Linked DNA regions of Homo sapiens. The protein of the gene in region 1 interacts with the protein of each later gene in a pairwise test. Each region holds a gene or a part of one and is shown in the gene's direction. Other genes may lie near its edges.

Region 1 (3,657 bases):
AAGGAAGGTAGTATTCATTTTCTCATCTGCTGGCCTTTAACACCACAGCAAAGCTAAATTACAGCAATGAACCAACCATTCATATTTTGTAAACTATTCTGCAGTAGCCACTAGGCTGTGGCTTTTAGCATCATACAGTCCCTAGACCTTTTTCTCTCCATTCCAAATCCTGACAAGAGCCTGTGGTTTCCTCTACTTATGCAAAGTAAGCTTTTAATAAATAATGATATACAGAACCAGAGCTTATCAGTTTCCTAATATGGTGGGCAGAATTTGGCAGCAGTGACGCTACAAGCATGTTTTTTCCACATCCTTTCTGTTAATGGCAGAAACAATAGGCCCTGGCATGCTCCTTGGGGCACCCCAACCCCTTTTTTTAGTAGTGTCACATTTCAAAGTAAGTTTGAAATAAGTAGCTACATTTAATGGTTTACAGTACTTAAAATTGGGTTACATCCTTTTGTTTCATTTTTACTGCAAATAACATAATTAAATTTAACTTTGCAGGGAGCTTTCTATATGTATTCTTCAGTATTCCTTGGATTAAAAACAATAGCAATGAAAGAACAGAAATTCATAACTACATACAAAGGAGAAGTATTTTAAATTAATAAGCTGTGTTTTAGAGCAATTTTAGATTCACAACAAAATTGATCAGAAAGTACAGTATACCTTCTGTCCTCACACATGCACAACCTCCCCCAGTATCAGCATCTGCACCAGAGCAGTACATCTGGCTCATTAATATCACCTGAAGTCTACATATTTACATTACATCACATTAGGGTTCACTGTTGGTGTTATATGTTCTGTGGATTTTGACAAATGTATAGTGACGTGTATATAGTCATGTGTTGCTTAAAGACGGATATGTTCTGAGAAATGCCTCATTAGACAGTTTTGTCGTGCAAACATTATAGAGTGTACTTCCACAAATGTAGATGGCATAGCCTACTACACATCTAGGCAGTATGGTATAGTCTGTTGTTCCTATGCTACAAACCTGTATGATCCCACCTGTATGATACAGTAATACTGCATGTTACTGTACTGAATACTGTAGGCAATTGTTACACAATAGTATTTGTGTATCTAAACACAGAAAAGGTATGGTAAAAATACAATGTAAAAGATTTAAAATGGTACATCTGTATAAGGCACTTACCATGAATGGAGCTTCCAGGACTAGAAGTTGCGCTGGGTAAGTCAGTGAGTGAGCGGTGAGTGAATGTGAGGCCTAGGACATTATTGTATACTGCTGTAGACTTTATCAATACTCTATACTTGGGCTGCACTAAATTTATTTAAAAATTTTTCTTTCTCGAATTATAAATTAACCTTAGCTTCCTGTAACTTTAATTTTTTAACTTTCTGACTCTTGTAATAACATAGTTTAAAACACAAACATTGTACAGCTGTATAAAATATTTTCTTTCTTTATATCCTGATTCTATAAGCTTTTTTCCTATTTTTTAAATTTTTAGTTTTTAAAAATCGCTTGTAAGTTTGTTAAAAACTGAGACACACACTCACATTAGCCTAGGCCTGCACAGGGTCAGGATCATCAATATCACTGTCTTCCACCTCCACATCATCCCACTGAAAGGTCTTCAGAGGCAGTAACATGCATGGAGTTGTCATTTCCAATGGTAATAGTGCCTTCTGGAATACCTCCTGAAGGACCTGCCTGAGACTGTTTTACAGTTAACTTTTTTTGTAAGTAGAAGGATATACTCTAAAGGGTATAACACAGGAAATACATAAATGAGTAACATAGTCATTTATTATTATCAAGTATTATGTACCATGCATAATTGTAGATGCTATACTTTTTTATATATGACTGGCAGTGCAGTAAGCTTATTTACACCACCATCACCACAAAGTAATGAGTTGTTCTGTGTGACGGCAGCTATGATGTCACTAGACAGTAGGAATTTTTTAGCTCTTTTATAATCTCATGGGACCACTATTGTATATGTGGTTCATCATTGACCAGAACAGGCAGCACATGACTGTATACCATTGTAGCATTAGACAGAATAGGTTCACTGCTCGAAAAATTCTTTAATGCCTGTTCTTCCTTCCCTTCTAGAAACTCCTGGCAACCAATAATTTGCTTTTGCTTTTGTGTTTTCTTTAGCGTCAGGATGTCGCTCTGTTGCCCAGGCTGGAGTACAGTGGCACAGTCATGGTTCACTGCAGCGTCCATCCTCCTGCCACAGCCTTCTAAGTAGCTGGGACTACAGGCATGCACCACCACACCTAGCTAGTTTAAAAAGAAAATTTTTTTTTCCCCCAAAACGGAGTCTGGCTCTGTCACCAGGCTGGAGTGCAGTGGTGCGATCTTGGCTCACTGCAACCTCCTCCTCCTGGGTTCAAGCAATTCTCCCTGCCTCAGCCTCCCGGGTAGCTGGAATTAACAGGCATCCACCACCATGCCCGGCTAATTTTTGTATGTTTACTAGAGACAGGGTTTTGCCATGTTGGCCATGACAAACATGACAACATGCCATGTTGGTCAGTTGAACTCCTGACTTCAGGTGATCTGCCCACCTCAGCCTACCAAAGTGCTGGGATTACAGGCATGAGCCACTGTGCCTGGCCAAAACAATTTTTTGCATAGGCAGGGTTTTCCTATGTTGCCCAGGCTGGTCTTGAACTCCAGGCCTCAAGCAACTCTCCAGCTTCAGCTTCCCAAAGTGCTGGGATTAAAGGCCTCAGCCACTGTGCCTGGCCTAATATTTTATTATCTCCACAATTTTGCATTTTTCAAAATGTCGTATAGTTGGAATCATAAAGTATGTAGCCTTTTGAGATTGGCTTCTTTCACTTAGTAATATCCACTTAAGTTTCCTCCATGTCTTTTCATGTCTTTATAGTTCTTTTTTTTTTCCCAGTGCCGCACAGTATTTTTTTTGTTAGACATGATTCAAGAAGTAATATAACAAGCCACTAGCTCCTTTTAGCTAATCGGTGGTGAAAGAACTTTCAAAGTTCAACACATGTTCAATTTGTGGATTGTTATTTATAATTATAAAGATTTTCATGCTGTATTTTGTTTAAATCTAGAATGTTTAACAAATTATGAAATAATAAATATTAAAGGATGACTCAACAAGTATATCAGAACATATAATTTTAGTACCATTCAAAGCTTTCATAGGCTTTACTTATTTAAACTAAGCTTTCATATCTCCAAGCATCTTTGGGAATACTCTTGACATTGATTTTAGGGCTAGGTTGAGATACTACTATGAACTTCATTTTTAAAATGATACATTTCCAATAAAGTAAAAAGTTGGTAGAGATTGGTCATACAACTTATTACCAAACTTGTCTCTAATGACATATAGCTATTTCAGAAAGTCAGATCTAATTGTAAAGGATAAAGTATTTCCATCAGTGAGATACTTCATATGATGTAGGCCATCAAGACAGCCCTGAGAAGAGGATACTTGAGCATGAGTAGCATTGATAAATGCTAGAGTGTCAGAGTGTGTCAGAGTGATTTTGGCAAGTTTGTTTAACAGTTACAAATTACATTACCTTGTCATCATCGATTTATGTCAGTGATAAACTGTGCTATTTTCATAATTTCTGATATTTTAAAAGTATTTAGCATAAACCCCTTCCTATACTTGCTGCAATGAAGAT
Region 2 (3,657 bases), on another chromosome or scaffold:
CTGGCTTACGATTCCTGGCCTCAAGTGATCCACCCATCTCAGCCTCCCAAAGTGCTGGGATTACAGGCGTGAGCCACCATGCCCTGCCCATAGTAAAGTGTTAATTTTTCCTCATTTCTATGTGTTTTCTCCTCAAGGCTAAAAACTCTTAGTTGACTTGTGCTGCATTTCAGATACCAGTAGCTCAGAATCCCCGTAGTCAGTTTTTAGAGGAAGATAGACTCTTTTTTGCCTATGTTATTTGACCCCATAATATTTTCTTATGTTTTCTTATGTTGTGAAAGGATTATACTCCACTATTCTAATTGTTAGGCCCACTGAAGTAAATACACATCTTTCTAGAAAGGTCCTGCTGTGTGCTTCAGAAATTGTTTCTAAAATAGACCTAACAAAATTATTCTAAATTATTTAAATCTTTGGCAAGAGGCTAGGATCTTTGAGTTTTCTTTTTAACTTCTTTGTGATTTGGGACAATTGGTCTTTATTATACCTCAGAAAAAAAATTATGCACTGCTGGTAATAGAATAATGGAGATGATGGAAATTACAGGAGATTTTTCAACTCAAGAAGATTAATGGTTGTATTCTTCTAGATCTGCTTCTCTAAATTTACGTGCAAAAGAAATCACCTGAATAGCTTTTTAAAGATGTAGATTGTGGAGCTCAACTCCAGAGAAAGAAATTACGAGGTATAGGTGGGACTTAAGAATTTGCATTTCTAACAAGTTTCCAGGTGATAGTGATGCTGCAGGTTCGGGGACTGCATTGGAGGAGCACTGCTAAAAACTCTTAAATACTACGAGAAAAGGAGTGCCAAGGCAGATAGAGCACAGTATATATCTTGTATATTATTTATTATGTTTTTTCCCCACAGTTTTCACAGATATTTTTATTAAGGTACTTTAATAATATTCTGATACGTCTAAAATAGTTAAATTCAAATCTCCAAAGAGCCCAAATTTTACTTACTGAAAAGTGGAAGGTTTTTTCATATTTCCCCTAGAAATTGTGACAAGAGCTCAGCTTCTGCCCTAAAACAATAGTACTTTTCCTCAGAGACAGTTGGTGTTATGATTCATCATCTTAGACCCTCAGTAATTTTAATATCAATTTATTATTTCCAGATTTTCTGTTTAAATGCAGACTTCCTGTGCATTAATAGTTAAAAATGTTCTAGATCTTTCCCTTAGTGTGTCATCATCTGTCTTAGAAAACTGGGATTTGAAATGAAACAAGCTGAGTTGGGTGATTTTGAGGTTGAGATTATCCTAATCATGTGGTCTGATAAACATGTTTATGTGCGTAATTGATTCATTCAGTAAATATGTAGTGTGTGCCTATTATGTGCCAGACACCGTACTGGGTGCTTGAGATTCAGCACCAAATTGCCTTTAGGAAACTTACATTCCATGTAGGGGAAGCAGAGAGAGAGATCTATTAGATAATGGTAAGTGCATCGAAAAAAAATTAAGCACAGTAAGAAGTGTTGGAGATAGAGAAGAGATTGCTGGGTTTTAAAAAAAATTTTTTCCCAGCTTTATTAAAGTATAATTGACAAATATTGTATATACTCAAGGTGTACAGCATGATGTGTTGATATACATATACATTTTGAAGTGATTGCCACAAATTAACACATCCGTCACTACACATTTTATGCGTGTATGGTGAAACCACTTAAGATCTACTCTCTTAGCAAATTTCAAGTAAATAATACAGTATTATTAACTAAAGTCACCATGCTATCATTGGATCCCCAAAACATATTCATCTTATACTTTGGCCAGCAAGATTGCTGTTTTGGATAGGATACGCAGGAAAGACCAACCTGATAAGGTGACATTTGGCAAAGACCTGAAGGGAGCAAACCACACAAATGTTTGAGTGAAAAGGAATCCACCCCTAAGAAGCAACTATCCGAGAATAAAGACATTTGTTATACTAATTCAAACCAGAATCTTAACACCTTAGCCTGATAGTTGTAGCAGAACCTATTTCAGATTCTCTTATCTGTTACAGATGTGTTAAATTCAGTTTTTTTTCCCAATATTCTGCCTATGAGACTTTCTTTCCATTCACTTAACTCTGTTTTTCCCTGTAAACTGAAAGCAAGGAAACTATTTCCTAAGGACCCACTGTTTTTTGTTGTTGTCATTGTTGTTTGTTTTTTACAAATGGTTGACTTTGAAGAAATAATACCAGAACAAAAAATTTGTTTTACTAGAATATCTTTATAATGTTATTTGTGATTTCCTCTTACTAGGCTGCTGCAGAGAAGTTGGTGCAAGCCTTAATGGAAAGAAATTCAGAATTACAGGCCCTGCGCCAATATTTAGGAGGGAGAGACTCCCTGATGTCCCAAGCACCCATCTCTAACCAACAAGCTGAAGTTACCCCCACTGGCCGTCTTGGAAAACAGACTGATCAAGTAAGAACTATAGACTTACATAATTCATGCTGATTCCATTTCCTTTTTACATTTGAGGTGTAAGTTTGATAATTTTAATACCAAATTCTGAGAATATTCTCAGTACTGTCATTGTGATCATAGTTCCTGCATCTTCCTAAGTCCCCTGACTTTTGCAATTTTTTAGGGTTCAATGCAGATACCTTCCAGAGATGATAGCACTTCATTGACTGCCAAAGAGGATGTCAGCATACCCAGATCCACATTAGGTAAGTATCAAATTTCATTTCATTAAGGGACTTTGTTTTTCTCTTGTTTTTTCTTCTAGTAATCTCTGTATTATAGGTTTGGCCAAGACTCTTTTCTCTTCCTACCTTAATAGAACAAATAAGTTTGGAATTCCTCTGAAAGGCTGAAGAACTGTCCTTACCTTATGTTGAGTTGAGCTGATTGCTCTGGGTTCACAATTCGGCCCAGAGAAATTCTATCCTTACTCTCCTTTTCAGATAGCTTTGCAGGGATTCAGAAATGCAGGAGGTAATTGTTCCAATCCTGCACAGCAGGGCCATGAGCTGACACCTTTTCCTGGGTATCGTTTCAAGTCTGGGGCCACTCACTGTAACTTGACATCACCTACTAATGTTATATATATATATAATGTTAGCATAGTTTGATAGTTTCTGGCACAATAAGATGTTCTATGATTACCTTTTGCTTTACCTGCCTCAGTCCCAGAATCAGCCATTATCCTAAAGAGCTCCCTGGTTCCTTTTGGTGGGTAATGGCATTCAGAAACTATGATCTGGACACAAGATGTGTTCATTGCTACATGAATGCCTTTTGCTTCTAGGACCTTTTTTTTTTTTGAGACGGAGTCTCGCTCTGTCACCCAGGTGGGAGTGCAGTGGCACGATCTCTCTGCTCACCTCTCGAGTAGCTGGGACTACAGGCGCCAGCCACCACACCCAGCTAATTTTTTTGTATTTTTAGTAGAGACGGGGTTTCACCGTGTTAGCCAGGATGGTCTCAATCTCCTGACCTCGTGATCCGCCCTCCTCGGCCTCCCAAAGTACTGAGATTACAGATGTGAGCCACTGCGCCCAGCCGCTTCTAGGCCCTTTTAAGAGAACAGAACTAGCAATGAATATTTTTAAGTATGTATGTGTGTATTTGTATATATGTGAAGATTTGATACTGATTTCCTTAATTCCAATTTAACAATATAGGTTCTTTTTTCCCTCATTTCATATT

The links.
Region 2: the proteins of SDCBP (region 1) and PDE4DIP interact in binary tests that used the Homo sapiens proteins (3 or more experiments, as listed by UniProt).

What each region holds. Positions count from the first base shown.
Region 1 is NC_000008.11:58,566,761-58,570,417, forward strand, and holds part of SDCBP (syntenin-1), read left to right. Parts: intron 1-3,657. UniProt on the Homo sapiens protein: Multifunctional adapter protein involved in diverse array of functions including trafficking of transmembrane proteins, neuro and immunomodulation, exosome biogenesis, and tumorigenesis.
Region 2 is NC_000001.11:148,969,918-148,973,574, forward strand, and holds part of PDE4DIP (myomegalin), read left to right. Parts: intron 1-2,262; coding exon 2,263-2,427; intron 2,428-2,593; coding exon 2,594-2,675; intron 2,676-3,657. UniProt on the Homo sapiens protein: Functions as an anchor sequestering components of the cAMP-dependent pathway to Golgi and/or centrosomes.